2 linked regions of the Homo sapiens genome follow. The protein of the gene in region 2 interacts with the protein of the main gene of each other region in a pairwise test. Each region holds a gene or a part of one and is shown on either strand. Other genes may lie near its edges.

Region 1 (3,658 bases), on a different chromosome or scaffold from region 2:
TGGATATTGATCATATTCTAAATATTCTATTCTAAAAATTACAGCATTTTAGACAAATACAAGTAGCAAATGATCTCCACTGTTTGTATATTATGTGAGGTCTAGAAACTGACACATAATCTTGCATGTTTATGAATGGAATCTACTGAGTCACAAGCTCTACCAACTAATTTATTGAGTGTCTATGGCAGACTGTTCGCAAAGATGGCCTCAGCAATTTCTTCAGGGCTCTTACTTTTGCAGTGTAAATTTGCTCCTTCTCCCTTCAAGAGGTGGCTTCTGTTTCTCCAGCCCTGGAATCTTGAATCTAGGCTGGCCCATGACTTACTTTGATCAATGGAATGAAGGTAAAATAACCTATGTGTCTTTCAAGACTAGGCCTTAAGATTTATGCAGCTTCCATACTCACTCCCTTGGAACATTTCTACTACATTTGAGGAATCTGGGGTAGTTTGTTTGAGGGTGAGTGACTACAAGGAGAGAGAAGCCCAGCCAATAGCCAGCTCCGACCACATGGCCAAATCCTCAGAAAACTGTTCTTTTCACCTCAGGAAAACACTGAATATGCCATAAAATTGTGTAGTTTTTTTAAAATAAATATTGTGTTATAATAAAATAATATGCATATAATCACTCTAAATTCTACCGATACAGCTTCAAATGTTAATAAATACTTGTTCTAATTATTAGACATTTTGAAAACTTATCAAAAAGAAAATAAAGCCTTACCCAACTCAACACATCCAGAAATTCCCAGGATAGCTGCTGAACTATGATACAGAGGAAGGGTTATATAAACAATGTCATGAGCAGTACAACCAAAAGCCCACAGGACAGCAGAACCCCTTAAAACCTGCAGCTGACTAATCACAGCTGCTTTTGGTAGACCTGGAAGAAAAGAAAAGAACAGGAAATATATATACACACATACATACATATACATATGCATACATATTCATATAACTAGAAAGGAAGTAACAGAAAGAAGATGATACTGATAACAACTACACTAGCAATTGACAGAAAATATATCAAAGTAGTCTATCTGCTTTGTAAAAGAGGCCATTCTGACTTTAGCAACGCTCCTTTGACAGGCTGCTAAGTAGGCCTGTATCTCAAACGCTATGTAATTTTATCGTTGGCCTTTCTGGATAGATCTAAGATTCTAGAAATTAATTACAGTGGTAGCACACATTTGGTTTCAGTAGCTATCTGATAAAGAGCATTTGGGAGGTAAGTTTTTGTCAGTCCTTATGTGCCTGAAAATGTCTTTTTTTGCCACCTATACACTTGAATGGCTGCTTGTAAAGAATTCTAGGTAAGTAGTCATTTTTACGCAGGACTTTGAAGGCATTGCTCTATAATCTTCTGACTTCCAGTATATATATTGAGCAATTATCAGTCTTTCTGATTTCTTATCCTTTGGATGCAACATGGTATTTCTATTTTTTTTCATTTTTGGAATCTTCTATTTGTTTTCAGTAGTCTGTAATATCATGATGACTTTTACTGGGACCAGTCTCATCTATCCATTTCGCTGGGAAATTTTTAGGCTTTTTCAGTCTAACAACTCAGGTCTTATAGTTCTAGATATTTTTGAATTTGAAAACAAAATAATTTTCACACCCCATTCTTCTCTTTCCTTCCTTATTTCTGTTCTTTTTGCCCATTGCTTTTTTCTGTTACATTTATTTGTGTGTTCATCCTTTCATTTTTAGAACTCTTGATTTTCTGAAGATCAGCCCTCCTGGACAGAATCACTGGTTTCCTAATGTTGCCTATCCTGTTTTCCTTCTCTTACCTTTTGCTTTACTTTTTGAGAGATTTTCCAACAATTATGTTCTCTGAATATTCCTCTTTTTGTAGTATGTTATTTTTATATTATTGACACTTTTTTGTCCCCATCTTTCAGAATATTAACAATAATAATTTTTTGAAAATTTCTCCTCTCTATCTTGTCAGTTTTCTCCAACATCCTTTTTATCTTTCGTTTGTATTGGTCTCAATCTAATCTAGAATATATTCAGGAGGATTTTTTTCAAATATCTGGAGACTACTGACTATCAGTTTATATTTAAAAGTGCAGACACAAAAACACAAAATAAACAAACAAAATATTAACTAGAATCTCTGTGTCTGAAGAATACTTATTTACTAGTTGGTTTCACTGTCCAGGACATTCTGTTGGGGGAATCCATCATGATCAGTGTCTTTCAATTTTTACATGTGGGCTATTCAGATTCCTCAGACAAGAATCTCAAAGATTAAAACAGTCAAGTATTAAAAGAAGTTATATATATTAAAGAGAACATATACATATATGTATATCTATCTATATACATATATACATATTTATAGGGAGGGAGACTTTCTTTTATATCCCCTACTTTTTAAACCTCTGTTCTTCCTGGTATTTTCAGAAGTTCATCTTTTCCAGAATTACGTCTCAGGACTTCTATCAGGGTGGAAGAAGCAATCCAGGACTATAGTTCCTTCTTAAACAAACTTCCCATAAAGTTTCCTGCTTATAGTTTCACATTTATTTTCTACTCTTTGAGGTACCTGGTACCCAATTTCTGAGCCTTTCTGGGGTTTGGTGGGGGCAAATGAATTTTCTTCAAGGCTTCACCATAAGCTTCAGCTTCTTGGGTCTGCGGTGTCTGCCACCACACTCAGTCATCACCTCCTTTTCTAAAATTTTGTAGCTGTCATCTCTAGTTCCATTCCTTTTGTCCTAAGGGACTGTGTATCTGTTCAATCTGCCAACTTCTAGACCTGTTATTATTCAATAGACCTGATTAGGTAGCCTGAACAATCTGAGAAAGAAGCTCCCTCAGTCTGGACAGAGTAGCCACACACATATTAGCACTTTTCAGTTCATTTATCAAAACTGTTCTAATCATGTAAAAAAAAATTATATTCTCCAGTCTAAAAGGGATTACAATTAGGAACTGAATAGATTTTTAAAATGTAAGAAAAATTTTACTATGCAATAGTTGCTCACAACCTATGCACAAGAAATGAGTAACAATACTCTTAATATGTCTAAGTCAAATCAACAATCATTTTCAAACTAATAATGAAAGCCTATTTAGGCTACCATTAATACCATTCAGTTTTTCCTAGAAATCAATTAAGTTTAACATTTCTTTTGAATTCTCTTTCTTTTCTTTCTTAAGACTGAGTCTCACTCTGTTGCCCAGGCTGGAGTGCAGAGGTGCAATCAGCTCACTATAACCCCGAACTTCTGGGATAGAATGATTCAACTGCCTCAGCCTCCTGAGTAGCTGGTACTACAGGTGCATGCCACCACATCTGGCTATTTTTTTTAATTTTTTTGTACATATGAGGTCTCACTGTGTTGCCTAGGCTGGTCTCAAACACTTGGCCTCAAGTAATCCTCCTGCCTTGGCCTCCAAAGTGTGTGATTACAGGTGTGAGTAGTCACTGTGCCAGGCCCTTCTTTTGAATTCTCAGGCAGTTTTATTATTGTTATTGCTGTTGTTTACTTAAAATAAAGCTTATTTACTTGATTTTATTTTGTATCTTAGTCCAAACCTGCAGTGCCTTCAAGAGTTCCTGTTTGTCACATGATTCAATTACCCTGACCAAAATCAGGAGAGCCAGCAACAGGTGCTTAAATTGCCGGTATACCTGG
Region 2 (3,658 bases):
ACCTGAAGAAATCCCTCACAACTATTCTAGGAGGTAGGTGCTATTATTATCCTAACTTTGCAGAAGAGCAAAGCTGAGGTTTAGGATGGCTAGGTAATGTATCCATGGTCACTATTAGTAAGGGTCAAAGCCAGGGTTTAAACACAGACCTGTCCAATCACAAAGCCTATGCTTTAACTAGTATGTTACACTACTAGGTAGTTACTTCAGTGAAGTTAATGTATGAGAATATTTGAGTAGCTCTTCCTACTAACCAATAGATTAACATACAAATAACAGACATACACACACACATACACATTTTGAAATGCAATACATTACTATGGCGGTTATATCTTATTTGCTACTCCTTACTGAGTAACCTTTTAAAACTGGAAACCTGACTCATCAACTCTTCTATTTTAAAACACTTTAGGCCTCCCCGCTGCACCATGAAAATAAATACTTTAATAAGGTTTTCAAGGCTCTGGATATCATTCTGTCCACATTCAATATTCTGGCCATTCCTCAGTGTTTTAAGTTATGCTTGCTTTTGTTTATAGCCCTTGCTTATACTATTTGTTTTGTATGGAACAATTCCACCAACATCCCCTTCACCCTCACTCCCACTGCCCCCAACTTTTACACAGATAACTCCCAAACATCCTTCAAATGAGTAAAACACTGCAGTCTGGATGTCTTTTCTTCTGGGAAGCTTCCTCTAATTATTGCCAACCTTCATTTCCCCAAATTTGGGGTTAATTCCTCTCCAATGTACTCCTATAGTACCTTTTAAAAATAGAGCTCTATTAAAATTGCCTGCTCTATTAGAAGTGCCTGTTCTGCACTAAATTGTAAGGATAGTGACTACACACAGACACTTAGCCCTTGGTTACCCCCACAGTACAAATGTCCTGCATCTAATATATATTTAATAAATGTCTGTGAAACCATTACATCCCAGAATAGCAAAGTCACATCAGATCTTTAGGAGAAATTTCTGAAAATTATTTTCATGGCTATAGAAAAGTGAAAATAAGCAGATGTCTACACAGGAACATTAGTATTATTAATAATAGCAGTAATAACAGAACCTAACATTATTAAGACCTAGTATATGCCAACCACTGTGCTAAGCCTCTAACACATCCCATCTTTAGCAATCTTCTGAGAAACTCTAAAATAAGTATTAAACTCATCTCAGTTTCACACAGGGGGAAAGAGAGGCTTAAAGACTATTAACCTGCTCAACATCACATAGCAAGTATCAAACCCGAGTCTCAAACGCTCAACTCTCTCATCTCAAAGTCTGTACTCACTAACTTATAATGCCTCTGGACTGACATCAGAAAAATACACATACTATTAATTACAAAGTCACCTTCTGAGTGCTCTACAAATGATGCTAGCTCACCAGGAAAACTCATAAAATAGAAAAATATATTTCCTCTTATATTGACAGATGAGAAGAAATAAGATTATAATTTTAGTTTTGGAATTTACCTCCAGATGATAATTTTATATGGGATCCCCTGAATATACATGGGCTGACAATGAAAAGATGTGGCTTAAAACTGCAATGCTGGCTGGGCGCAGTGCCTCATGCCTGTAATCCCAGCACTCTGGGAGGGCAAGGAAGGCAGATGGCTTGAGCCCAAGAGTTCGAGACCAGCCTGGGCAACACAGCAAGACCTTATATCTAAACTAAAAAATAAAAATAAAAAGTAAAAAAAACTGCAATGCCCATGGCAGAGAAAAGGTAAAATTTGCTGTGCTTATCCAAGTTAGATCAGATCTTTAGGCACTATCTATATGTAATTTGATCTTGAAAGCCTTGGTTATTAAAAAGGCTTGTGTGAAAGAAATAAGAATTATATACATTATTGCCTGCTTGCTTTTCCTACAGAGTAACCACAAAGTCAGTAATATATAGTCTCACAAACTGGCTAAACAGCAGAATGTCAGGAGTAACCACAACAGAGTCTTAGGGGAAAAAAAGATAAAGTCCACGTACCTGCTCAATGAGTCGCTTTATTAGGGGTAGCCCTTCTAATGCTGAACTGTCACATCCACTGGTCAACACGCGTTCAAATCCCAAGGTTAAGAGGGTCTCCAGAGCTGCCATTGGATCATGAACCATGTCAAAGGCTGAAATAAATAAAACTGATGTGAATTTTGAACAGGTATCTCTAACGCAGAGTTTCCCAAAATGTAGTATACATGCAGTGGCATGCTGGACCTAGCTTGTACTGGCTTACAAAGGCCAATTATTAAACACTCAAGAATTCTGCAAGTCAGATTGTTAATCCACTGGCAGCCTGAAATTAGTGAAGGTAGGGCCAGGTGCAGTGGCTCGTGCCTATAATCTTGGCATTTTGGGAGGCCGAGGTGGGGAGATCACTTGAGCGCAGGAGTTTGAGACCAGCCTGGGCAATGTGGCAAGACCCCATATCTACAATACAAAAATTATCTGGGCATGGTGGTGTGCACCTATAGTCCCAGCTACTCGAGAGGCTGAGATGGGAGGATCACCTGAGCCTAAGGGGTCGAGACTGCAGTGAGCCAATTGCACCATTGTGCCCTAGCCTGGACGACAGAGCAAGACTTGTCTCAAAAGAAAAATAAAAATTTAATTAATAATAATAAAAAAATTCAGTGAAGGTAGAGTATTTAAACCACAGAAATTTAAAAATGCTACAAATCAGGGCTCTTTTTTCTAGGAGCCAGTTCATCAGCACACCACAGTCTACATACCACTGTGCATAATCATTTTAATAATGGTACACATTTAAATAGTATATTTACTTAAATGCAGATAAGAAATGAAAAGTTTTCAATATAAAGTAATTATAAAAGTTTCTATTTAAAATAAATTTACTTTTTTTTAACTTTTTTTTAAGTTCAGGGGTACAAGTGCAGGTTTGTTATACAGATAAACCCGTGTCTTGGGAGTTTGTTGTGCAGATTATTTCATCACCAAGGTATTAAGCCTAGTACTCATAGTTATTTTTCCTGATCCTCTCTGTCCTCCCACCCTCCACCCTCGGAAAGGCCCCAGTGTGTGTTGTTCCCCTCTATGTGTCTATGTGTTCTCATCATTTAGCTCCCACTTATGAGTGAGAACATGTGGTATTTGGTTTTCTGTTCTTATGTTAGTTTGCTAAGGATAATGGTCTCCAGCTCCATCCATGCCTCTGCAAAGGACATGATCTTGTTCTTTTTTATGGGTGCATACTTAAGATTTTATTTAAAGAAAATGATTAAATAAAAATGTGCACAGGTAGCACTCATATATGGTAAAATTTTAAATGTGATAGGCAGGTGAGTCAAATTTGGGAAACTGTTCTAAGGCTTCAGAAATATTGGACTAGGTAGAATGAAACACTGTACTCACCAGTTCTAGAAAAAGCCTTGGCTCACATTCTCATTACTGACTAATATTTTGGATTAATCTATTAACCCCACATACTCAAGGTTCATAGCATAAGGGTAGTTGTTTTCAACAGACTATATGAAGTTTCACTTCCAACCTACTTTTTTTTGTTTGTGAGATGCAGTCTTGCTCTGTCGCCCAGGCTGGAGTGCAGTGGCACGGTCTCGGCTCACTGCAACCTCTGACTCCCTGATTCAAGTGATTCTCCTGCCTCAGCCTCCCGAGTAGCTGGGATTACAGGCATGC

The links. The genes of interacting proteins can lie anywhere in the genome.
Region 1: the proteins of CUTC (region 2) and SLC27A6 interact in a two-hybrid assay, tested with the Homo sapiens proteins (one large-scale study listed by BioGRID).

What each region holds. Positions count from the first base shown.
Region 1 is NC_000005.10:128,985,830-128,989,487, reverse strand, and holds part of SLC27A6 (long-chain fatty acid transport protein 6), read right to left. Parts: intron 889-3,658; coding exon 730-888; intron 1-729. UniProt on the Homo sapiens protein: Mediates the import of long-chain fatty acids (LCFA) into the cell by facilitating their transport at the plasma membrane.
Region 2 is NC_000010.11:99,745,726-99,749,383, reverse strand, and holds part of CUTC (copper homeostasis protein cutC homolog), read right to left. Parts: intron 2,128-3,658; coding exon 1,994-2,127; intron 1-1,993. UniProt on the Homo sapiens protein: May play a role in copper homeostasis. Can bind one Cu(1+) per subunit.